Linked DNA regions of Homo sapiens. The protein of the gene in region 3 interacts with the protein of the main gene of each other region in a pairwise test. Each region holds a gene or a part of one and is shown on either strand. Other genes may lie near its edges.

Region 1 (7,978 bases), on a different chromosome or scaffold from region 3:
TCAATAAATAAGGTTGCCTTTGCTCACAGTGAAGTCATGCAAAATAATGATAAACCTTCTGATGATATAGGATGGTAAAAACACACACACAAAATATTCAGATACCAGCTAGGAGGAAGAGAACCTCAGGTATGGCAGTACTTTGATGGAAAAGAAGACATGTAGACATTTTTCATCAGAAATAAAAAAGGACACGATGGAACCTTCCCATATTTCTGTTGGAAATGTAAAATGGTACACCTATTGTGGAAAACAGTTTGGTGGTTTTCCAAAAAGTTAAACATAGGCCGGGCGCAGTAGCTCATGCCTGTAATCCCAGCACTTTGAGAGGCCAAGGCGGGTGGATCACTTGAGGTCAGGAGTTTGAGACCAGTCTAGCCAACGTGGTGAAACCCCATCTCTACTAAAAATACAAAAATTAGGTGGGCATGGTGGCGGGCACCTGTAATCCCAGCTACTTGGGAGGCTGAGGCAGAAGAATCGCTTGAACGCAGGAGGCGGAGGTTGCGGTGAGCCGAGATGGTGCCATTGCACTCTAGCCTGGGTGACAAGAGCGAAACTCTGTCTCAAAACAAACAAACAAACAAACAAACAATTGGCTGGGTGTGGTGGTAGGTGCCTGTAATCCCAGTTACTTGGGAGGCTGAGGCAGGAGAATCGCTTGAATCCGGGAGGTCGAGGTTGCAGCGAGCCGAGATTGCGCCATTGCACTGTAGCCTAGGCGACAAGGGCAAAACTCCATCTCAAAAAAAAAAAAAAAAAAAAAGAAAGAGTTATAAAATTACCATATGCCCCCAAAACTGTATGCCTAGGTCTATTCTCCAAAGAATTGAAAACAGGTACTCAACATACTTATGCATGCATGTTAATAACAGCACTATTATAATAGCCAAAAAGTGGAAACAACCCAAATACTCATCAGTGGATGACTGGATAAACAAATTGTGGTATATCTACGTAGTGGAATTATCATTCAGCCATAAAAAGAAATAAAATCTTGGTAAATGGTACAAAACATCATGCTAAGTGAAAGAAGCCAGTCACAAAAGGTCACAGGTTATATGATTCCATTATTAGGAAATATCTAGAATGGGCAAATCCATAGAGAAGGCAGATTGATGGTTGCTAGGGGCTTGGGAGAGGAGGCAATGGGGAATAACTGCTTAATAGGCACAGTTTTCTTTTGGGGTGGTGAAAATGTTTTGGAACTAGAGAGAGGTGGTGGTTTCATAACATCGCGAATGTAGTAAATGCCACTGAATTGTTCATTATAAAATCGTAAATTTTATGTTTTGTGAATTTTACCTCGTTAAAGTCAAAATGCATACATATATAAATAGGACAGTGTTACAGTTGAGAAGGCAGAAGCATCCCATGCTTCCTCTTCCACTCAACTGAGACTCTTTGGTTTCGTCATCTGTAGGAAAATGAAGTTGAACTAGGTGACCACTAATATCTCTTCCAGTTCAAATTCAAAGGTAAGAAAACTCAACATTTTTCTTTCTCCCCTACTCCTCCACATGCTTGAAAATGACTGCATCTATACTGCAGATGCACACTGGAAGACAATGTTGCTGTAATTAAATTACAGGGAAATTAATTTGCTTTAGTTATTATGGAAAGGTATTTTAATATTCATTATTATGACACAAATTAGTGGACAAATAACTAAAGCAAATGCACTTTAACAATTAGCTTGGGTTTTCCCTCTCTGATGCTCAGACCCACAGCCTGTGCCTGGCTCCAGCCTGTCTGTGTTCCTCCGTGCAATCACACACTCTGATTTTTGCCAGTCACAGTATCTCTGATTCCTCTGCCAAATGCAGTGCTGGCAGCCCTAAGCTGATCGGGAGGTCCTTGATTGATTAATGAGTGCCCTTGCCAAGCAGGGATGGTGCCAAGGGATTGAATTCCTTTCTAAACTGCCCATGCTTTACAACCAACATAATCTAGAACAGTTGTCACTAGGACTCACTTAGACTATTGCTCTAGTTATAACGAGTTACAATTTTACTGTGAAATTATTGAAATATTATTTGAACAGTAAACTAAATTTACCCACTCCTGGGATTTGAAGTCTTGGGTCAACATGTTCATTCTGGAAGGTGGTTGTATAATTTTCTGTATTTTACTGACCACCACCCCTCTACCAGTGATTGCAGGTTTCCATTCCTTTGTAAATTCCCTCCTTATCGTTCCTAGGAATAAGGTGTATCTACAAAAAGCCTCCAGCTAGAAACATTTCAGCTAGTTACTAAGGATTATCTGTCACCTTCCCCCTTTTTGATTCTGTCCCTCTTCAGGGATATCTACTTCTGAGATTTACACAGTCCCCAAAGCTGCAAAATGCACGACCCAATGCCAACCAGGGTCTACATTCAGGCTGTCTTAGACCAGGTTTCTCCTGGTCACCCCATTATCCATAGTGCCCCTGGAGGAGATCACTGCAGGAGGCAAAGCAGTTCCTTCTGTGCAGGGTTCAAGCAGAAGTAGAGAGGAGGGCTTTCCTCCTTTTTGGTACTGCACTCCATTTCACTCCTTGCTGCAATTTTTTTTTTTTAAGGCTAAATTTCACTTTTGTCACCCAGGCAAGAGTGCAGTGGCATAATCTCAGCTCACTGCAACCTCCACCTGCTGGGTTCAAGTGATTCTCTTGCCTCAGCCTCCCGAGTAGCTGGGATTACAGATGCCTGCCACCATGTGTGGCTAATTTTTGTATTTTTAGTTGAGGCGGGGTTTCACCACGTTGGCCAGGCTGGTCTCAAACTCCTGACCTCAGGTGATCTGCCCACCTCGGCCTCCCAAAGTGCTGGGATTACAGGTGTGAGCCACTGTGCCTGGCCCTTTGCTGCAATTTAACAGTCCTCCAGTTTTCACTTTATGTCTCTGGCTCCCACCACTCAAATGTCCACTGCTCAGATAGACAAAGCTGAGAGACAAATGCCCTGTAGAACTCCTAAGTTCTCCCTCCACTGGCCTCTAAGCTTTTGTGCTGGGTCAGGCTAATTTGCTTGACTCTTTTCCAGTGACTTCTCTTTGGGGAGGCTCCCCAGCCCCTTTTGCAAATAGATCCTTCCAGATAAGCCCAGACATACTGAATCCCAAGTGGAGGCTGCTATGGCTCAGGGTCAGACATTGAGTTCCCAGTAACTATTTATTAGCCATTCACTATGTGCTAAACACTGGGGTTCCAAGGATGATGGTCTCCTCTCATCATGGAGCTGCCTTGGGAATTTAGACAAGAGCTCTTTGAGCAGTGATGGCCTTTACCCCAAGGAGGGGTACCTCCTGCTCAAAGGTAATACCAAAGGTGCCAACTAATCACTGACTTGGCAGAGAACCTCTCTCAATATAACTAGAAGTTTCATCAAAGTTTCTTAAGCACTCCACCATTGACTGCTCTCCTTCACCATCCCCCAGGTTCTTACTCAACCACGTGCCTCTGTCTGCTTCTTTCCAACTTGTAGCAGCACCTTTCCTCTTCTATTCTTTGTTCTTGTCCTGGATGTCATTCCCTTTCTCCCCTCAGAGGCAGAGAGGAGAGGGCTGCTGGAGGAAGAAGAAAAGTGAAAAAGCTGTAGAAATTTGCTTCCACAATAAACAATACCCGAAAAACCTGTACATTCTTTTCTTCAACTTAAATGAAGAACCCAAGTGTGCACTCATATGAAGTAAAAAAGGTGCAAATAGGCCGGGCACGGTGGCTCACGCCTGTAATCCGAGCACTTTGGGAGGGCGAGGCGGGCGGATCACCTGAGGTCGGGAGTTCGAGACCAGTCTGACCAATGTGGAGAAACCTCACCTCTACTAAAAATACAAAATTAGCCAGGCATGGTGGCGGGCGCCTGTAATCCCAGCTACTTGGGAGCCTGAGGCAGGAGAATTGCTTGAACCTGGGATGCGGAGGTTGTGGTGAGCAGAGATCACACCACTGCACTCCAGCCCAGGCAACAAGAGCAAAACTCCGTCTCAGAATAAATAAATAAAAAAAATACAGTTCCTTTTTTTTTTTTTTTAAAGAAGTACAAATAGCTTTGCATGCAATTTATGAATTTTTTCCTGATTCTGATCGCTGGTGTTCAGTAGGAAAGGGAATCAAAACTCCATAAAGCAAATCAGCTTATCTGTAGATAACCAAAGTCTTCTCAGTGGTGTCTGTCCCTCTTGTGAAAGTACAGCTGCTTGTGGGAAAAGTGAGAGACCTAGAATACAGTGTATCTTTTGGGGGACATACCTCTGACTGTTACAGAAGCATGTGATTAATTTGGAAGGTAGAATTTCGGAACATCATATTTTAATAGGAAGCTTGAAAGGTAAGTAGAGGAAAACATCAAGCAAAGCAAAATACACCATTTGCAGAGTTCAATCAGATATGACTCAGCATTTCTTCATTGTGCTCATCCCCAGCTCCTCAAGCACATAGTGCCTTGCACACAGTAGGGGCTGAGGGAAATATTCGTTAATGCATTAATTTTAGTTAAAACTAGATACCTCCTAATCTCTCAGTGGCTTGAACTGGGTCAAACAGCAGAGGAATGGGGTAAATAAGGAAAGACACCCGGTAAAGGTAGAACAAGACCACTGCTTAATAAATATATTCGTTTTTGGGGTTATTATTTTGCTCAAAAGTCTATGAGGTGACCAACCCAGAATGTGGCAGTTAATTCTATTTACATTTTCAGTGTGGGATCCAGGTTTTCAAGTTTGTTATGTGATTTTATGCAAAACAATATGCAAATCCAGCGCATTCTAAAAATTCAGTCTGCTTTCCAGCCGCTCCCCTGGTCACAAACAACTAAGGTTGGCGCCGGGCTCTCTGGGATCCTTCGCGGAGGGGCAGAGCAGGCGGGGGTGACTGGCAGCGGGGCGGGGGAAAGGGCGGTCCCGGAGGCGGTCCCGGGGCGGAGCCCGTGACGCGCGGAGTCGGCCGGCTTAAGGGCCGGACCTCAGCGTCTCCCGGAGTCTGGCCGCAGTCGCGGCAGTGGTGGCTTCCCATCCCCAAAAGGCGCCCTCCGACTCCTTGCGCCGCACTGCTCGCCGGGCCAGTCCGGAAACGGGTCGTGGAGCTCCGCACCACTCCCGCTGGTTCCCGAAGGCAGATCCCTTCTCCCGAGAGTTGCGAGAAACTTTCCCTTGTCCCCGACGCTGCAGCGGCTCGGGTACCGTGGCAGCCGCAGGTTTCTGAACCCCGGGCCACGCTCCCCGCGCCTCGGCTTCGCGCTCGTGTAGATCGTTCCCTCTCTGGTTGCACGCTGGGGATCCCGGACCTCGATTCTGCGGGCGAGATGCCCCTGGGACACATCATGAGGCTGGACCTGGAGAAAATTGCCCTGGAGTACATCGTGCCCTGTCTGCACGAGGTGGGCTTCTGCTACCTGGACAACTTCCTGGGCGAGGTGGTGGGCGACTGCGTCCTGGAGCGCGTCAAGCAGCTGCACTGCACCGGGGCCCTGCGGGACGGCCAGCTGGCGGGGCCGCGCGCCGGCGTCTCCAAGCGACACCTGCGGGGCGACCAGATCACGTGGATCGGGGGCAACGAGGAGGGCTGCGAGGCCATCAGCTTCCTCCTGTCCCTCATCGACAGGCTGGTCCTCTACTGCGGGAGCCGGCTGGGCAAATACTACGTCAAGGAGAGGTCTAAGGTAGGACGCGCTCGGCGCCCTGCCGCAGCTGCTCCCGCGGGGACGGGAGGCACTCGGAGTCCGTTGTATGTCGACTTCCCAGGGCCGTAAGCGAACTTTGTTTTTTAACCAAGAAGTCAGCCTGGTTTGTCTCTACTCGCTGCTTCCCCCCACCCCTCGCCCCAGCTCCTCTGAGCGAAAGTCAACGTTAAGGGGCTCAGGTGAACCATGATGATGACCTTCTGTTGACTTTGAAATATTGGCTCTTGTGGGTGACAAAAGCCAGACAAGCTGTGGCTGTGGTCCGATTTTAAGACGAGGTTCTCAAAGATCCAAAGGAGGGAAAGGGTATTGGAAACACTGTGTATCATCTGAGACACACGTGTCCTCATGATCTTAAATGCCTACTTTAAAGCCACCTAATACTGCCCTTCATTGTGGTCAGAAGAGATTTCTACAAAAGCACTCAGAATTCTGGAGGCAGTTGTGATTTTGCCATGTGGCAGTTGGTTTGTGGAGTTGGGCAGGTGTGAAAGGGTAAAACTCCACTTCTGAATGCTGCTTCTGCCCCCTGGGACCCAGCACATTGTTAGACCATCTTCTTGACTGAAAATTCTCTCCTGATGCTGAGCCCTGCACCACCACCTTCCTTTTCCTAACTATGAATTGATGGCAAAGTCCACTCAAAACAACCAGTTAAGTGCTCACGAGAGAGTAGTCAAGCACCTCCAGAAAGAAACCGGGTTTTTGTTCACATAGCAGGAAGTGACTCCCTGGGTGGTAATTTATCTTGGAAACACAGGTAGATTGGCAGAAAAACGGGAACATGTAGGTACCGCGATGTTGGTGCATGTCCATTACTTTGGGATAGGCTTTCTCAGTCTTTCCTCAAATGATAGTTGAGCCAGTTTTCCAGTGGCAATTCTGAGTGACTTGCGCTTGTCTTATGGTGTGGTCAAGGGACGTTCAGAACTACGGAAAACTTTTACTGAAACAGCGAAGCAGAGTATACCGGCATGAGAGGGAAGATGAACACTCACCTATGTACCACTCTTTGACAATAAATATAGTATTTCTCAAATCAGTCTCAAGACTGATCCTGTCTCAGAACAGACCATTGTTCTCTCATTTCTCTAATACGCTGAGAGGAACACTCTGAATAAAGGCTAAGTGGTGAGGATTGGAAACGTGTGGGAGTGAAGGGGTGGAGGTGGATGAGTGCAGTGGGGAGTCACAGTTTGCCGTACAACTTCCAAGCCAAGAGGCCATGAATAGAATATCTGAAAGCATCGTTATTAATGCACCCAAGTAAAGTAAATCTTAGAAGATACTGCTTTCTAAATTTTACTTTGGGGAAAAAAATTCCGCGTGAGCTGAACTCTGTAGGAGATTGATGCTAAAGTGTTTCTTTATTCTTCTTCCATCATGTTGGTGGTGGATTAGTCACTCGTCTTTGACTAGTTTGATTTTTGCATTAAATGACCTTGCTGTCTTCTGTGGTGGAGGTGTGTCGGGGAGGGGAAGGGTCAGCCTCAGTGTTGCTGAGATGCTGGTAGTTTCTACCTGGAAGAGCAGACGGCTTCTTATTGGGTTTTTAAATGTTTCTTGTAAATTTAGGTGTTAGGAGTTTTTCTTCATCATTCTAGGAGCAGAATTTGCTCTGAGGGAGGTCAGGATTAATTGGTATGGAAAGAGGCCACTAACATTGAAAGTTAAATATTTTTATTTAGCTTTGACTTAATGGATAGGGATAGGGTTTCAGACTAGAATTTAACTCAAATGGAAGGAAAAACACTGTGTAAGTTAGGGTAAGGGAAAGAAAGATCCTGTAGATATGATTCATCAATTTTAGGTTATCTTTTGGGTGGAATGAAAAACTTTCCAGGTGACCCTGTCAGAAGGTGATCGTGAATTGAAAATAAAATTTATCCTGTCCCACCCCCAGATTTCCAGGTTTACTTTGGCTGGTTTGTCACAAAGCTCCCTGCCCTTTAGATAAATCACCTTTCGATTGGAATATTCCCTGGCCAATTAGAACCAAATGCAAACCAGGCTTGAGCAAACAACTAGTGTAGTTAAATTTTTTTTAAGTGTGCTTTGCTTGTATACAGAAGTCTCCTTAGTGATGTCTTGTGGTCTTGGGTTTCTTGTTTGAAGTTCATTATTAAAGTCATGGTAGAAACACTTTCCATTTCTACATGATTTTTATTGGTTTCACATTAATTTATCCTTCTTTTTCTTCACTCACTTTTTATCCCTCAGCTGAGCTCCTCATTTTGTGCTGCTTTCCAGAGCAGTGATAGAGACCCAGTTTACCGGTTCATCCTTCACCCGTGTTTTCAAGAAAAACTAAAGTT
Region 2 (6,998 bases), on a different chromosome or scaffold from region 3:
TGCCCAGCTGCCAGAAAGCACAGATTTGACCCAAGCTATTTATATGTTATAAAGTTATAATAAAGTGTTTCTTACTGTTTGTAACCCCTGGTACCAGTGTGTCCATCTCCAGGCTCCTTGCCTTCCCCTTACCTGACCTTATTAATAAAGTCTTTCTTAGCAGTTCAGCTTGTGGAGAGCTAAGTGTGAACTGGGCCAGGCACAGAAGAGCTAGGCAGGGGTAAGACCAGAATTGGGGACATCCTCTGGGCCCAGGCTGCTGAGCAGTCCTAGATGGCACCTCTGCCCTGCTGGCTTCTGTACCTCTCAGCCCCAGAGAACCTAAGGGAATCAGCCCACCGTGGCTAGCCAGGTGGGGTCTGGTTTTCCACAGCCTGCCAGTCCCATTACTGGCCAGGACTTTAGGCTGTATGTGCCCAACAACTATGGCCTGCTGAGGGCAGGAGACGAGTGGGGCGGGTTCCTAGGCTGGGACAGACAGCACCTCATGACAGCCTACAGAGCAAGTCACACGGCACAGGACTCAGTCAGTCATTCAGCTTTATTTCAGTGCTGGTTTTTGGTTCCCTAAGAGCTGCATGAGTGCTAGGCTTCACCACGTGACTGGGGGCCCCTTGGGAACTGGGTACTATGGGCAGGATGCCCCTGAAAAGAACTGAAGACAGAGGAATCATACTTCTCTTTAATACCTCTGGGGAAGGCCCAGGCTAAGGATGAGGGCAGGGACCAGTCCCAGTGCCCCCTGGGGAGAGAAGAGGGAGAAGCTTGGGCACAAACTCCCAGTGGCCCTGCAAGGCTATCATCCCTGGATCTTGCTGGAGTGGACAGTCTTCTGGGCCAGGGTTGTTCTAGCTTGTTTCTCACTGTACCTAATCAGGGGGCCTAACTGCATTAACAGGCAGCCAGAACCTACCTACCAAAAAGCCTGTAACCTAGACTGCTCCTCAGATTTTGGCCAAGAGAGGGCCCCGGCTTGGGAGCTGCTTGGCCCTGAGAGTGAGCAGAGGCTCAGAGAATACACAGCACAAGGGTTACAGTCCCTGGCCTCTTCCCATCGCTGGAGACAATTTAAGACTGAAGGGAAGATGAGAGGAGGGGCCAGCCCTCTACCCTGGCTCATCTGCTTCTGGCTATGTTCCTACAAGGGAAGTGATAACAGCCTGAAACCCGTGGTACCAGGGCCTACCCTATGTCCACAATCCTTGGTGAGCCCTTCTGTCCACCCATCCACCCGCTCAGCCAGCCTGGGCAGACACAGAGCAGAAGCAGCCTGAAGCCCTGAAGCAGGCTTAAACACAAGTCCTTGACAGGAATCCCTGCCAGGATTCCAGGCATAGATCCTGTTCTACCAGCCTCCAGGGCCTAGAGCTTGGCACCTTAGGATTTGAGCATCAGTGTGTTCCTATGGTTGGAACCCACACCAGCTAGCTCATCCAGAACTAGCCTCATTTTGCCATCTTTGAGACAGGGTGCTGGCCCCAAGCCTACTCATCTAGACTGGACAAATGTAAAAGGTTCAAAGCCCAGATGATGTAAGAGCTGGGGTGGAGCTCAAGCACGGGAGCCCATCTGCCTGCTCTGGGATGACAGCTGCAAAGGACCGTTTCAGGGGAAGGGCAGAGGGGATGAAAGAGTAGGTGGGGCATGTATGTGCGGGCAAAGGGCTGGAGGAGTGGTGGCCTAGGACAGAAGCACCAGGAAGCCTCTTCTGGTTCAGCACCAGGCTCCCCCAGGGATATCCCCATCTGAGGGGTCTGGCCCCAGACTAGGCAAAGGCTCAACCTGCTCAGCTTTGAGGGTGGGGGCGGGCACTGCTGGCAAGATGGGCACTGTGGTTCTACAGTAATATAACCTTATACTACCTGTGCTGAAGACGACAGAACAACATAAAATCCCAATACAGTAACACCATCCTAATGCCGCCCCCTTCCCTACCTCTGAGTGATGGAGGGAAAAGGAGGGAGAGATCCTTGGAAAAATCAGCATAAAACTTGGATCAGCTCAGGAGTAAGGGTCAAAACCCCCCAAATCAACTTGTGGGGCTAGGGGAAGGCCTGGTCTGTCACAGCCCTGGACATGAATGGAGAGTGCAGGTCTGCCCTCTGGTGGACAGCTGCCGTGCAGCTGGTTCTACAGAGGAAGGGCTGTCTGCGTGGGGAAAGCAGGGGAGACACAAAGCCACAAGCTCTGAAATAGAGCAGGTACAGGCCCCCAGACAGGACCTGGCCCACTCTTCAATGTGTGTGCCCAGGCCCAGTGGCTGTAAACCTGAAACACAGTCTTGAGAGCTGCCTACGGCTGTAAACAAAGGCCCACCTGGCCGTGCAGGGGGCTGAGGGTAGAGATGCCTGGAGTTGCTGCACGCTCAGCCTGCCACCCAGCCCGGAACCCAGTGGGAAAGACTTCCCTGGCTAAGAGCAAGTGACAGGTCAGTTTTAAGTAAGTTCTGTTCTCTCACAGAAGAAACAAACCCAAAAGAGAAAAAACTTTAACAAGGTCCATGAAGCTTCATATCCTTAAGGCGTTTGTTATCAGGAGCAGCAGGGGACAGCAGAGTCCTGCCTGCGCAGGAACCCTCTAAGCAGAGTGCAGTGGGATAACAAACTTGCAGCCAAAGGGCGAGTGGTAGTTGATGCCCACCTCCTGGAAGACCTGCTGGGGAATGCCAATGTCGCACAAATAGATACGGCCTGCGTGCTCCCCCAGTGGCAGAGGCAGGCCCAGTGCCAGTGACCATTTGGCATCAATGCCCTGTTCGACTTCATGCACAGGAGGGTCTATGCTGAGTACTGGTGCCCGGTTCTGGTTGGCCCAGGCCACAGCTGCCTTGTACCAGGGTTGATCGCGCAGGAAGACGTTCTCAGGGCAATCCAGGCAGTTGATGACCAGGTCCACAGGGCTAGTGGGCAGATCTGCAGGTGGAAAGAGTGCCATCTGAAAGTCCCTATGAGCAGAGAGCAGCCCAGGCTGGGACTAGGGCCCAGGTCACCCCAAGGGTGTCTTTGTTTTCCAGACACCACTCGAATGCCTCTCCAAAGGCTGGCCTTCTTAAAGCTGGGCCAGGGCACAGGCCCTAGGAGTTGCAAGCTGGCTGGGCTGAGTGCTAGAGACCAAGTGCATGTCAGCCCAGCAGACCACTGCCCTCCTGGAGTTCTCAGGATGAACCATTGTCGTCCTGAGTGTGCAGAGCTTCTCAGGGCACAAAGCCCTCACCTCCTCTGCCTTCTCAGGCATGCCTCTGTATATCCAACTAATGCCCTGGGCACCTTATGACCTCTGGGAAGGCAGAGTCCACTGTCAAGGTGGCCATCACAGGGAAACCCCACTCAGGTCCAGCAAAAACAGGAGCTGACTGCTATCTGCTGACCCAAGAAGGGTGAGCAGGTGAGAGCATGCTTATTCTATTCCAGCTGGCCTACTCATTCTACTCTAGCAAGCCTGTCCCCTCTCGTACTCATTATCTCACAGGAATGGGTCCTCCACTCAGCCCAACCTTAATTAAGAATTAAGAGGGAACCTATTACTATTCTCCCAGGCTCCTCTGCTCTAACCAGGCTTCTGGGACAGTATTAGAAAAGGATGTCTCAACAAGTATGTAGATCCTGTACTGGCCTAAGAAGTTAAACTGAGAATAGCATAAATCAGACCAAACTTAATGGTCGTTGAGACTTGTGTCCTGGAGCAGCTGGGATAGGAAAACTTTTGGGCAGCAAGAGGAAGAACTGCCTGGAAGGGGGCATCATGTTAAAAATTACAAGGGGAACCCACACCAGGCCCCCTTCCCAGCTCTCAGCCTAGAGTATTAGCATTTCTCAGCTAGAGACTCACAACTTCCTTGCTTAGAATGTGCCACCGGGGGGAGTCCCTGTGGGTGATGAGGCTCTCAAGAGTGAGAGTGGCATCCTATCTTCTGTGTGCCCACAGGAGCCTGGCCCGAGACTTAGCAGGTGAAGTTTCTGGTCCAGGCTTTGCCCTTGACTCACTATGTGACCTCTGGTGGAGTCCCTTCTCTGGGCCATATTTGCTCTCTCCAATTCTTCTCCCTGCTGTTCTCATTTAAACCCATTCCAGTCAGACTCTGTCCCTACCACTCCACTTAAGACCACTCATCAAGCTCACCAGGAGCCTCCACAGAGATGCTAAATCCAGTGGTCGATTCTGTCTTCCTTTGACCTTAACCTAGAACGGGGCTTGCTGACACACTGACCACATGCTCCTTTCTTCACTTGGCTTTCAGCTACCATACTCTCCTGGTTTTCTTCCTCCCTCACTGACCATTCCTGTCCCATCTCCTTGGTTAGGCTCTTTACTCCCTGACTTCTAAATAAAGAGCTCAGTTTTCCAACTTCTGTATCTACTCTCTTCCTATGTGACAGCATATCCAGGCTCCTCATGGCTTAAATATTCCCTATGGCTTGTAACTCTAGGCTGAATCCTTTCACTTCAGATTCATATAACTCGTTCCCTATCAACATTTCCACCTGCATATCCAATAGGTGTCTCAAGCTGAGCTTCTGCTGTTCCTCCCCAAACCTTCTCTATCAAGTTTTCCCATCTCAGTGATCGCACCTCAGTTACTGAGGCCAAAAACTTTGGAGCCATTGCCAACTCTTCTCTTTCTCCCACCCCCCATACATCCAGTCTGTGGATTCTATCTCCAAAACTGATTTAGAAACTAACTACCTTCACCACCTCTGGCACTACCACTCTTGTCTTAGCCACCATAATCTCTCTCTCCCATGATCACAACAGCATCTTGACACTTCTCTGTACTCCTCTGTGTAGTCTACTCTCAAACAGCACCCAGAATGATCATCTGGAACCTAAATTTGATTATATCATTTCTCTACTTATTCCTTCAATGACTGCCCATCTCACCAGAGTAAAAGCCCAAATCCTTGTGGTCATCCCCAAGGCCCATCATGACCTGACCCTGAAATGTCCAAGTCTCCTACTCTCCACCCAGTCCTCCAACATGCCTCCTTTCCCTGCTTTGTTTTTATCCACATCACTTACTACAACTACACAAGTATGTTACATGTCTTTTTGTTCCTCCTAACCAGAATATAAGCTCCACAGAAGAATGGATTTAAAAAAATCTGTTGCCATATCCCTAGCATCAGGAAGAGTGCCTGTTCAACGAATATTTGTGGAATGGACCAATGGGTCCCCAGCTCTTCATGTGAGTAGTTGGAGAGGGAGAAGCATAAGGGGATGGGAAGTAGTATATTACTGTTCTAAGACTCCTTAGAGGCGAAGCACCATCCTTACACACGTAGTGCCTTTCCACCTGTCGCCACTGGGTGGCATGACGAGACCATCAAACTGCTAAGGAGGGAGGAGGCCTTCAGCCCAGCCCTGCCTAAGTGCTCACCTTTGAGGCTAGACACTTGTTGGCCTTGGGTCTTGCTGAAGAGCGACAGCTCATTGGTGATAGATTCCAACATCTTGACAAAATTGGGCAGGAAAAGGATGACCTGGACATCATGGTTGGCTAGGTGCCTTCCACAGCTGATACCCTGAGCCCCCTTCACATGAGGTCCACACAGTAGAGCCACTGTAGGCCTCTGGTGAACATTTTTGGGATTCAACCTGGAAAAGAAGGTGAAGAAGCAGTATCAGCTACATACTTGCCAATCCCTTGCACCCTATACCAGACAATTGCCTGTAGCACCTATTGGTCTCAGATCTCTTACCCACTGCTCACCAAGTCCCAGGCTCCAGAGGGGGACAAAATCCACTGCAGGCCAGGTCTATAGGGTGGCACTCCTGTTGTCCCAAACCCCAACCTCACATCATTGCTGGGTCCTCCCACTAAGTGGTTCACCCAGATCTTGCTCCACACAACACTGTTGCCACAACACCGCTTTGCTGACCCATGAACACTTAATAGTTCCTCTGCAGCCTTGTCTGCTCTTCTTCCCCAACGTGTCTGCTTCACTCCAGCAGGGCTGGTCTCATCCTCTCCTGCACTTGTAAGGCTCTTTCCTGCTTATGCTCAAACTACATCCCCTGCCCAGAAAGCCTTTCACTTTCCAAACTCTGAACCGCCTTTTCTTGGAGATCCAGTTCAAGACTTACCTCTGCTGGGATTACTCTGGCTCATGCCTTTACCTCTCCTCAACTCCTAATAAGCTCACAGCAAGTACCATAGCTCTCCATTCTCCTCAGTCAGTTGCCAATGGTTCTCTTTACTGAGCTTAGTAGCTTACTGAAGTTAATGAAAGCAATGCTGCAGGCATTAACAGTATCTATTTCATAGGATGCTGTGCAGATTATCGGATGCCCAGCACTTAGCAGTGCCTAACACAAAGAAGGTAAGGTACTCAGTCAGTGCTGACCATGGCGGAGGCAGCAGGCCAAGGGTTACCTGGCCTCCTAGGCTAGCAGCTGCCTTGGATGAAGTTGTCACTTCCAGTTTTCTGCTATTCAAAGCTGAGACTCCTCTAGACTCAGAGAAGCCACAAATAAGGAGATAAAGAGGATTAGCCCCAGAGCTGTGCCCAACTCATAGGCAGCACAGTTGGCTCACGGGGCAGCAATGTAGGGAGGAGATGGACGGCAAGGCCATAGGTCCCTGCCTAGTGGCAGAGCAATGATAGTCACTTACCGGTTTCCCAAAGGGAGGAAGATGACAAGATGTTGTCAAGCTAAGAGGAGCTTCATAACTGCCCCCATTCCCAAACACATTTTGGAGAATTTAACAATCTACTCTATATTCCAGACACCAAACCATTCGCCTTCCCATTTCTGCATTTAGAGGAAATATGATGAGAATTGCTCCCTTCAGAGGATGCTGCAGAGTTGTGGAATCTGACTCACTTTGTTCTCTAAAAGGGTTCTTCCTCTCAGGGAGAACCTCTCCCACCCCCAATCAAAAGAAGCAGAGCATGGCATTCACACACCCAGCGGCAAGGTGTAGAGTATATGGGCACTGGAAATGGACCTATGTGGATTAGAGGCCTGGCTGGACTGTGTACCAGCAGTATCATGTGGGC
Region 3 (4,332 bases):
TTAAAGTGACAAAATGGCTTGGCACTGTCAGTTGCCTTAAAAAAAACCTGGGACAAAAATCAAGTAGTCAAATTTAGGATTTATGGTAGATAGTTTTAGTATATAAATTGAGTATACTAGTTTAGTGTTAAGTCCTGAAAGGGTTGGGAGGAGCGTCTATTCTAACAATAGCACATGTGGAATTATCCTAGGCTTACATATAGAAATCGTTTATTGATTAACTCCAATTTTTTAAAAATGAAAGGGCCATTGTTGTGGAGAATAAATTGGTACATTTGAGTGCCAAGAAGCCAGCAAGACACTGCTGCAAATGTGGAGTGAAAGAATAATGAGTCCGAAGGGTCCCTTGAGATGTCATCAGCTCTTCTTTTTCTCAGGGTAGTCCCTGAAAGGTAAATGGTGCAGCTCCTTTTTGAGACCTCCATTGTCTCCCAGAACACCAGGCAAATGGATTTATGATACATAGCATCCAACACTGAACAATGGCATAGACTGGGATAGACTTCTTACACTGAATTCCCAGAGGTACATGGCTATGGGTTTTAATCAAATGTACACTACATGACAAGAGTTCTGCTGAAGAAAAATAAAAATAGAACTAGAAAAATGCAGGGGAAAAATGTTGTAGTTTCTGAATATTTAAACCTCTAGGGTGGGGCGCGTGGGATGTGTGTGTAAAACAAACCAAAAAAAAAACAAAAATCTCAAAATCTTCAGCTTTCACATTTGTAAATATTTTAGACATAATAAAGTTTTGGTCAAACTATAATTATACACACATGCATATATTCCTAAGCTAACAAGCTGACTTTAGATAGAAAAAAGGGCATTACAAATATAAATACTGCATATGTTTCCAGTGTGTGTGCACGTGCGTGTGTGTGTGTGTGTGTGTGTGTGTTGGAGGTTCTTTTTCTTCCCATAGCTTTACTAAGTTCAAAAGATAAATATATTTACTCTAGAGAGGTTTAAGAATTATTTTGATGAGGTGGGTTGCTACAAAACTTAATTATGTAAGTAATAAACGTGTCAAAAAGGTTTCAAAAATGTTTAATAGAATCACAACTTATTGCTGTGATATAATTTGATTTTGTATTGTCATGTATAACCTTCAAAAGTCATTTTCTGTTCATATAGTAATGAATCAAATTATGTTGGATCAAAAATTATCAGAAGATTTTTTGGTATTAATAAACCATACATATAATAAAAATATTCAACATGTTTTAAGATGGCATTTTAAATAGTAACAGTACGTCGGCAATGTAACATGATGTTCTGTAAAACTAACATGACAAAATAGGATTAATTGTGGTTTATGGATTTCCATTTAATATAAACCTTGTTTCTTTTTTGTTTTTAATGAAATTATATCTACTAAAGTAAATGTGGCAAAATGAGAGAAGTAAATCATAGAGAATTGACCAAAACTGGCATGGTTATTCCTCCTCTAAGCCAAACGCGTCCTTCAAAAAGGTCCAGTAGTCAATGTATTTCGCAGGAATAGGTGATGGCATACCAAGCCAAACATCTTCACATCTCTAGAAAAAAACCAAAAATGGATATGATTAGAACCACATTTCAAAGTACAGTTTTGAAAATTCAACACCAGTTTATTTGCAAAGTGAAAATTTCTACCATCTACTTTAGGTTCATAAGGACTTTGTGGTCTACTGGATACTTGTTCTTGATTCTTCATTCCCTCCCTGTATAAGAATTATGTGCCCACACTCTTTGTCATATGACTCTGTAGAACCTCCTGTGGAGTAAGAAGGGTATATTTTCCTGTTCCTTTGATATGGGGTTGGCCACATGACTGGCTTTGACCTATGTACTATTAGCAGACATATCATGGACAGAGGCTCTAGCGTGCTGGCATCATTTGGCTTGGCCTTCTGTGCCTCTGCCATCACCATGAAAAGAACATGGCCCAGGATGCTGCTGTTCTTAGAATGACCAAGGTGGATCAGACCAGGCTGGACTTGCGGACTAAGAGCCAAGCTTAGCTGAATCCAGCCATGCTTCACTGACCTACATGCCCATAGACAAGAAAAAGAAATGTGTCTTGTTGTGAACCATTGAAATTTAAGGAGTTGTTATGCAGCATGAATACGCTGATAGATCCTCCTATACTTTCTTAAGAACCCAATTTTTATTTTTATTTTATTATTTTTTTTAAAGACAGGGTATCACTTTGTTGCCCAGGCTGGAGTACACTGGCACAATCTCTGCTCACTGCAACCTCCAACTCCCGGGTTCAAGTGATTCTCATGCCTCAGCCTCCCGAGTAGCTGGGATTACAGGCACATGCCACCATGCCCGGCTAATTTTTGTATTTCTAGGAGACGGGTTTCGCCATATAGGCCGGACTGGTCTGGTCTCAAACTCCCGGCTTCAAGTTATATGTCCACCTCAGCCTCCCAAAGTGCTGGAATTACAGACGTGAACTGCTGCCTAAAGAACCCAATTTTTAAAATACAAACTGGTATCTATACTGGCTGATTGGTTACTGTTTCTTCAGTAAACAATGAAAAGAACACTGGATCACTCACAGTATGATCTTGCAGATAAGCCACTTTATTTGTGTGTGTGTGTGTACACATATACACACACAGATGCACATTTTATATAATACATAAATACGTGTATATACACACACACAAACTTTTTGCATATGCCTCAATGGTTAATTAATATCAACAGGAGGCAAAGTTCATACATATGGTTGCTTATATTTCTACTTTCAAGGTTAAAATATGACTGTCAAGGTTAATTGTTGTATATAAGAGGTTCTATATCTTTACTAGTGTTACATTAGTATCCAGAATCACAAGGTGTCACAGAAACATAGGTAAAGGCTCAATAATTTGATGTGATGGAATTTTGGAAGCAAGCTGAATAAGTGGTGATTCAGTTGCACCTTATGGGATGAAAAACAGTTCAGCAGAGGGTTTAGGGTTGTGAAGGGTATTCCAGGCATAGGGACCAGCGTAAGCAAAGGCCTGGAGATCTAAAATCTATTTTCAAGAAAGGGTGAGTAGCCCAGTGTGGTTTGCGGCACATGGTGCAAAGTGGCAAGAGAGATGGTTAGAAGGAGAAGCTGGGGCCAAACTTCTGGCCTTCTGTGCTAGTTTATACTTGAGGCTGTGGTTAGGGGAAGTCACTGGTAGGTCTTGGCCAGGGAAATGACAGAAATCTGATTAGAAACTGATTAGCTAACTTGCTGGATGTACAGAGAATGACATGAAGTAAGAAAATCAATCTGGAGGTGAGTACTATAATACCGCAGAAAAATGACTGTGCCATAACCAGGGTGGCTGAAGCGGGCATGGAGGACAGGAGCTACTCTGAGAGATGCTGCTGCAGGAGAACATGAAATAGCTAGAAGGGGATCAACTTGAAATGGTGACAAAAGAAAGGTGTAGTGCTATGGGTTGAGTTGTGTCCTCATGCAAAAGAGTTATGTGAAGTCCTAATCCCTAGTACCTCAGAATGTGACCTTGTTTGGAAATAGGGTTTTTGCAGATGTAATTAGGTAAATTAAGATGAGCAAAATGAGATCATACCGGAGTAGGGTGGGCCCCTAATCCAATATGACTGGCCTCCCTATAAAAAGACAGCCAGGTAAAGACAGAGACACACAGGGGGAACACCAGGTGACCATAGAGGCAGAGATTAGAGGTTTGCAGCTGCAAACCAAGGAACGCCAAAGATTGCCAGAAAACCATCAAAGTCTAGGAAGAGGCAGGGAAGGATTCCCACACAGGTTTCAGAGAAAGTATGGCCCTGCTGACACCTAGATTTTGAACTGCTAGCCTCCAGAACTGTGGAAGAATAAATTTCTATTGTTTTAAGCAACTCAGTCTGTGGTACTTTGTGAGGGCATCACTAGGAAACTAATACAGGTAAGGATGGTTCTAAGAATTCTAAATTCAGTAATAGTTGACAGTGTCTGTTATTAGTTTCCTGGGGCTGCCGTAACAAAGTACCACAAAGTAAGTGGCTTAAAGCAACAGAAACTTATTCTTTCACAGTTCAGAAGGCCAGAAGTCCAAAACCAAGGTGTTGGCAGCGTTGGATCTTTCTGGAGGCTCTAAGGAAGAATTTATTCCATGCCTCTCTCCTGGCTTCTGGTGGTGGCTGGCAGTCATTCCTTGGCTTGTAAGCACATCACTCCAACGTCTGCCTCCAACTTCACATGGTGTTCTCTGTGTATACCAATATGTCTTCACGCAGCTTTCTTATAAAGTCACCAATCAATGCATTTAGGGTCCACTCTAATCCAGCATAACTTCATTTTAATTAATTATATCTGCAAAGATTATTTCCAAA
Region 4 (7,031 bases), on a different chromosome or scaffold from region 3:
GGAGGGCTGAGGCTCGAGATTCGCTTGAACTCAGGAAATGGAGGTTACAGTGAGCCAAGATCGCACTACTGCACTCCAGACTGGGCAACAGAGCGAGACTCAGTCTAAAAAAAAAAAAACAAAAAAAAGAATAGGCCTATTTCCTTTTCTTAGAAAATGACAACTAAGTTATCTCAGTTTTTTCTCTTTTTGCCATGGCTTCCAGGAAGCTCACTTAGAGAGTCTGATCCATCAGCTTCAAGTGAGCTTCTCCTTCCCACATAGTCATGGGCTGACCTTCCTGGGACTACAGAGTTGTCTTCCAAGAGATGCTCAGAAAGGTGCTCAGGCTGGAAAATACATAGGACTCTGCAAGGTTCAGGGTTTCAGGGATACTCCACCCAGTCCGTAGGAGCCTTTTCCTGCTTCAGGCTCATTATGAAGAGCAAGGAGAAGCTCAGCAGGCTTAGAAGGGGCTCAGAACTACCCAGAATTCCCTGAGGATCAAAGAATCCTAGCAATTCAATAACTACCATTCACTCTAACCCTCCCGTTACAGATGGGGAAGCTGTGGCCAGAAGGTAGAAATCTGTCCAAGGTCACACAGGAACACTGGTAGAACTGAGACTTGAACTCAGGTCCCCTGAGTCCCAGAGATGTGTCATTATCATCATAATCATCCTCCTCCTCCTCCTCATCCTCACCCAATGTGGACCATGCCTTAAGCTATGGCTTTTCATGTATTTAATCCTTTCAACAACCCTGTGAGGCACCTTCATTTTACATGTGAGAAAACTGAGAATCAGAGAGGTAAAATGACTTATCCAAGATCTCACAGCCAGAATAGAGTGGATCCACAATTGAAACCCAAACTGCCTGGCTATAGAGACTGCTGCCTTCCTGCTACATACATGAGTAGTTCCATTAAATTACATAAATTGTTAAATTCCCAGTGGAATTTAGTACAGAAGAAAAAATAATTTATGCAGATGAGTTTATAAGTTTCCTTGGATCAGGCCATGAGAATGTCCCAAACTTCCTTATTTCCCTTCTGGCCTTGGCTGCCAAGAAGCCTGGAACCAAATGGAATGCCCCAAACCCATATCCTCACCAGCTAAGTGATATATGGACCACTCTGCTTTTGACAGGGCTCAGTCACTCTCCTCCTACCCAATCCCATGCTTGCTCAGGCCTAGACCCACCTCAGAGGCATAGGAATCATTGTCTTCAGCTCGGTAAGGCCTGAAGCTCCGGCTGGGGTCGGGCTTAGAGTCCAAGTCACCAGTGCGGAAAGCCTCTCGGATCCTGGGCTCCCATTCCGGCAGGTCCCTGAAGTCAGGTGGCTGCACCCAGAGGCACAGGCAGAACAAACCAAAGATCACCATGGGGAGGGGCCCGAGGGGTGCCAGAAACACCCACCCCAGGCCTCTGCGCTCCCTAAGAGGCTTGAACCACCCACCTGAGGGCTGGGACCCTGGTAGATTCACCTCTGCAACCCAGACCCAGCCCCAGCTGGGGGCACTGCTGCCGTTTAATGAATGTTTGCTGAAAGGATGAATGAGTAGGTAAGTGCGAAGTGATTTTCTGAATGTGTGCCTTGTGCACAAACCTTTTGAGTCAGCCCAAACTGTCCTATCACATGTGTGACCTCTGTTCATCCCTCTTTCAAGAAGAACCAAAAGGGAGATAACATAGAGCAGTCTATGGGCACAGTGGCATGTGCCTGTAATTCCATCTACAATTTGAGGCTACAGCGAGCTGTGATCATACCATTGCCCTCCAGCGTGGGCAACAGAGCAAGACTGTTTCTTTAAAAAAAAAAAAAAAAAAAAAAAAAAGGCAATGTGCTTGCTTAAAAAAGCAAGATGAAACCGGATCAACAGGTCTTGAGTTAAAGAAATTATGGCACATATCCACTGTATAGTTGTTAAAAAGAAAGTGCTAAATCTCAGAAGGGCACGATGGCTCACACCTGCAATCCCAACACTTTGGGAGGCCGAGGCAGGTGGATCACCTGAGGTCAGGAGTTCAAGACCAGCCTGGCCAACATCGTGAAACCCCATCTCTATTAAAAATACAAAAATTAGCCAGGTGTGGTGGGGCATGCCTCTAATTCCAGCTACCCAGGAGACGGAGACAGGAGAATTGTAATTTCAGCTACCCGGAAGGCGGAGACAGGAGGCGGAGGTTGCAGTGAGCTGAGATCGTGCCACCGCACTCCAGCCTGGGCGACAGAGTAAGACTCTGTCTCAAAAAAAAAAAAAAAAAAAAAAAAGATAAAAGAAAAAAAGAAAGTGCTAAATCGCTCTCTTTCCCTGGAAATGAAAAATTCCCTGCCATTGCTCTGAGGATGAAGATCAAACCTCCCGCATGCTCAGTGCAGTCCAGCTTCACATTGTCTCTTCACTCAGTGTCCTGGACACACCACGCTCCTTCCGCCTCTGATCTGAGCTGTGTCTTTGCACAGGCTATTTGCTCTGCTGAAAACACTGTGTTCCCCCAGCCATCCATCCCTCTGACCTCTGGTCAGATCAGAGGCCTTCCCTCAGCATAGGGTCTAGGTCAAGTTCCTTGTTCATAAAACCATGTACGCTTCCTTCAGATTCCTCTCTCAGTGTCTAATTGCACATTCACTGACATGATATTTTGGGTGACTCTGCCCCACTAGATGATAAGGACCATGAGAGGGGGAATCATATCTGTTTTTGCTAATCATGACATCTTCAGCAGTGAGCACAAAAACTGTGTGAACAACAGACAAGGCATCATAAATTAACAAACTGATACATTGCGTTAAAAATATAAGTTGTGTAGTAACAATAGATATAAAGCAATCTGGGTGGAAAAACAAATATATGATAGATGTGTAGAGAAGGATTTAGAAGGACAAGCTGCAAGGATGAAATATTCTAGATCCACTCTACTAGACACACACAAATACTGAACATTTAAAATGTGACTATTAGGCCACACACAGTGGCTCACACCTATAGTCCTAGCACTTTGGGAGGCTGAGGCTGGTGGATCACTTAAGCTCAGGAGTTCAAGACCAGCCTGGGCAATATGGCAAGATTCCATCTCTACAAAAAAATTTAAAAATTATGGCCAGGCACAGTGGCTCACACCTGTAATCCCAGAACTTTGGGAGACAAAGGCGGTCGGATCACTTGAAGTCAGGAGTTCGAGACCAGCCTGGCCAACATGGTGAAACCCCATCTCTACTAAAAATACAAAAATTAGCCAGGCATGATGGAGGGCGCCTGTAATCCTGGCTACTTGGGAGGCTAAGAGAGGAGAATCGCTTGAACCTGGGAGTTGGAGGTTACAGTGAGCCGAGATTGCGCCACTGCATTCCAGCCTGGGTGACAGAGCGAGACTCCGTCTCAAAAAAAATAAAAAATAAATAAAAATTAGCTGGGTGTGGTGGTGCTCACTTGTAGTCCCAGGTACTCAGGAGAGTGAGGGGGGGAGAATGGCTAGAGCCCAGGATATCGAGGCTGCAGTGAACTGAGATTGCACCACTGCACTTCAGCCTGGCCAGCGGGGAGAGACCCTATCTCAAGAAAAACAAAACAAAACAAAGGAAAAAAATAAATAATAGGATCTGTGCATGAGGCACCTTACCTGAAAGTCTGAGCCAAGGTCTTTTGCCAGAAGAATCTCCTTAGAGAGCCCCTGGGAGCCCAAGGGGGGCAGTGATGAGAAGGACTCCTGCTGTTCCTTGACAGAGCACCCGAGGACTGCATCTGCCTTCCGCGTGAAGGCATTCAGCTCCTGCTGCAGCACGCTCAGGCGCACCAGGATGGCATGGATGAGCTTGGTGTCCCTGGGGCCCTCGCTGTTGTCGGGGGCCTCATGCAGCCGGAAGTCAGCACACTCGTTGTCCAGACACAGCCGGAGGCCAGCCGTGAAGCCATTGGCATCAGCCACCAGGACATCGATGGCCTTACTGACCAGGGCGGCCTGCTCTCTCAGCCCAGGCAGCACCTCGGCCTCCCTGGCTCTGCAGAGTCGGACCGCATGGGACTCGTGTGTCTCGCCCAGGGGAGCAGGCACACACTGGGCAGAGTCCCCGGCCTCGGCGTCCGTCTCCAGCATGGGCCGCGTACTCTGGCAGGAGGCGAGGTCACAGCGCTGGAGGTTGGAGAGGAGCACGCGGTTCTCGTACTGCAGCTTCTTGACCTTGCCGCTGAGCTCGCCGATCTGCAGCTTGGCGGCCGCCAGCTCCTCCTGTGAAGGTTCGCTGAGCACAGAACAACTGTCCTCCGACAGCGCCACGTCCAGCTCGTGCTCCGAGCGGAACTTGGCCAGCTCGTTCAGCAGCAGCTTGTTCTGGTCCTCGAGCTCGGCAGAGGAGCGCCGCAGCAGCTCGGCCTCCTCTTCGACAAACTGCAGGTGTCGCCGCAGCTCTGCCAAGCTCTCCCCGCACTCTCCGCCACCCAGCGCGGAGAAGGCCAGGCGTGCCTCAGGACCCCCACAGCCACCTCCATGATCCTTCATGTCGTCCATCTCAGCCCGCAGGCCTCGGTTCTCCACCTCCAGCTCCACGATGCGGCGGCTCAGCAGGTTGGCTTCCTCCTCCACCAGCTTCAGGTGCACCTTCAGCTCGGTCTCCCGCGAGTGGGGGGCATCGGCCAGCTCCTCGGCTGACAGCGCGCTGTCCAGGTCCCCATAGAGCGAGCGGTACTTCAGCAGCTCCTCCTTCATGCTGTCATTCTCCTTGGCAAGCTTAGTGAGCTTCTTGCACATGAGGGCTGACTCCTCCTTTGCAAAGTGCAACTGGCACTTCAGGTCTGCACTGTCCTCCTGGGACCACAGAGACAGACACAACCCAGGAAGGTTAGTGCTGGGAGTCTCAGTACCAGCCATGGCATTTTGGGGAGCACTATGTGCTGGGAACACAGGGATGAATCAGACACAGCCAGACCCTCAAGGAGCTAAGGGTCCGGGGGAGACGCAGAGGGGTAGATGTTGAAATGACAGCAAGGATGGGGCGCCACACATAGCCTGGGAGTACAGGAACAGGTGACATACTGATGAGCAACTGCTGCCACTACAGTTTCATCAGTAAAATGGGGCGGTAACATTACCTCCCTCCCAGAGCCACAGACGGGATTAAATGAGCTAAGGATGAAAAGGGCCTGGCACTCTGACAATCCCATACCACTAGGAGCTAACGGTATGTGGCCTTTGCTGCATATAGTACTTCATCCAATTCTTCCAATGAACCCCCAAGACAGGGATAGATAGGAAATGGAGCCCAGAAACTCAAAATGACTCGCTCCAATCACATGGCAGTCAAGTGGCAGAGCCAAGATTCAAGCCTGGGTCTCCAACTCTAGACCTTTGGATTTGACTGTAGTGCTGCTTGCTAAGTTCCTGGCTGGGGTGGGGAGCGAGCATCTAAGCATCTAAGAACCATGGGCTCAGGATGTGGTTTTGGGAAATAAAGTGGGCAGTGAAACTAAGAAAATGAGCAAGGGGGCCGGGCGCAGTGGCTCACACCTGTAATCCCAGAACTTTGGGAGGCCGAGGCAGGTGGATTGCTTGAGGCCAGGAGTTCAAGACCAGCCTGGTCAACACGGTGAAACCCTGTCTCTACTAAAAATACAAAAATTAGCCAGGTGTGGTGGTGCACGCCTGTAGTCCCAGCTACTCGGGAGGCTGAGGCATGAAAATTGCTTGAACCTGGGAGGTAGAGGTTGCAGTGAGCTGAGATTGTGCCACTGCACTGCAGCCTGGGCAAGAGAGTGTGACTCCGTCTCAAAAAAAAAAAAAAAAAAGAAAAGAAAAAAAGGAAAATGAGCAAGGGGAGGACAGGGCAGAATCTGGGATCCCCAGGCCACTTAGAGTCAGGCTCAGGTCTTCAGAATAAAACCTTCCTACGGGGGCTGCTGGGAATTACCTGCACCAAAGTCTTCTTATCGGCCTTCCCCAGGGAGCGGGTTCCTCTTTTCTTCAAGGAATGCTGAAGTGAGATTTAATTAAAAAAAAAAAAAAAAGTCAGGACTGAAAGCTCACAGAATGATGCACATGCAGAGAGCTGTCACAGTGCCCAGGGTCCAGGGAGGGCCCCAGTCCCCAGGCCACCCCACCCTGATGGCACTGACTGTTGAGTAAGAGGAGCCCTCCAGATCACCCAGTGAGCAGCAATGGGAGATAGGCCAGAAGCATTGGAGAAGATGATTCTAAAAACACCTGCTCAGGGCTCCTCCCCTCCAGCCTGCTCCCATGTGTGACCCAGTTGGCCTCGGCGAAGACTTGGAAAGCTGTGTTTCTGTTCTCATTTGTCTTTCATCAAAGGATTTCCTGAGCACCTATCAAGCGCCAGGTAGGTAGGTGTAGAGAACACAGCAGTGAACCAGGGAGGATGTTGTGGTGCTTTGCCCAGATTCCCCTTCGGAACTGAGACACTCATTCCCAGAGCTGAGACCTCAAAGCTGAGTACCTCTCCCAGCGACAGCCATTGGTTGAGGAGAACCACCTTGTCCAAGGGCAGGTGCTATCCGTGGATGGAGCCCACATCCAGGGATGGGTCCATGACCCCTTGCCTCAGCTCTACAGGGAGGGCCATCCTAGCTCCAGAGCTCCCCATGGGATCGCCTGAGATCACTGGTGTAATTCAGCTTCCAGCTCTGCCTCACTCCCTGTGGTGTTGTTCCCAAGGAGACTCTTCCATAAACCTCTGCATGCAAATCTCCATCTCAGAGAAAATCCTGTCTTCATGAAACTGACATCTAGTGGGAACTGTAATTCAGAATGAATACTAATGGATAAAATGAATATGGAGGCTGGATGTGGTAGTTCATGCCTGTAATCCCAACACTTTGGGAGGCCAAGACAGGAGGATTGCCTGAGGCCAAGAGTTTGAGACCAGCCTGGCCAACATAGCAAGACCCTGTCTCAAAGAACAAACAACAACAATAAAATGAATATAACAAATCGTAATTACACATGAGGCTTAGAAATGGTCATAAGAGACTGATGGCAAACAGTGATTCAAAAATCCAGAAGCTGGTCTGGCATAGTGGCTCATGCCTGTAATCCCAGTA

What was found.
Region 1: the proteins of EFHC2 (region 3) and EGLN3 interact in binary tests that used the Homo sapiens proteins (3 or more experiments, as listed by UniProt).
Region 2: the proteins of EFHC2 (region 3) and EDC3 interact in binary tests that used the Homo sapiens proteins (3 or more experiments, as listed by UniProt).
Region 4: the proteins of EFHC2 (region 3) and MTCL2 interact in binary tests that used the Homo sapiens proteins (3 or more experiments, as listed by UniProt).

Annotation. Positions count from the first base shown.
Region 1 is NC_000014.9:33,948,060-33,956,037, reverse strand, and holds the start of EGLN3 (prolyl hydroxylase EGLN3), read left to right. Parts: upstream 1-4,963; 5' UTR 4,964-5,285; coding exon 5,286-5,642; intron 5,643-7,978. UniProt on the Homo sapiens protein: Prolyl hydroxylase that mediates hydroxylation of proline residues in target proteins, such as PKM, TELO2, ATF4 and HIF1A. Target proteins are preferentially recognized via a LXXLAP motif.
Region 2 is NC_000015.10:74,630,035-74,637,032, forward strand, and holds the end of EDC3 (enhancer of mRNA-decapping protein 3), read right to left. Parts: intron 5,593-6,998; coding exon 5,375-5,592; intron 2,913-5,374; coding exon 2,578-2,912; 3' UTR 524-2,577; downstream 1-523. UniProt on the Homo sapiens protein: Binds single-stranded RNA. Involved in the process of mRNA degradation and in the positive regulation of mRNA decapping. May play a role in spermiogenesis and oogenesis.
Region 3 is NC_000023.11:44,147,356-44,151,687, forward strand, and holds the end of EFHC2 (EF-hand domain-containing family member C2), read right to left. Parts: intron 1,542-4,332; coding exon 1,440-1,541; 3' UTR 517-1,439; downstream 1-516. UniProt on the Homo sapiens protein: Microtubule inner protein (MIP) part of the dynein-decorated doublet microtubules (DMTs) in cilia axoneme, which is required for motile cilia beating.
Region 4 is NC_000020.11:36,811,523-36,818,553, forward strand, and holds part of MTCL2 (microtubule cross-linking factor 2), read right to left. Parts: intron 5,948-7,031; coding exon 5,885-5,947; intron 4,786-5,884; coding exon 3,604-4,785; intron 1,323-3,603; coding exon 1,182-1,322; intron 1-1,181. UniProt on the Homo sapiens protein: Microtubule-associated factor that enables integration of the centrosomal and Golgi-associated microtubules on the Golgi membrane, supporting directional migration. Preferentially acts on the perinuclear microtubules accumulated around the Golgi.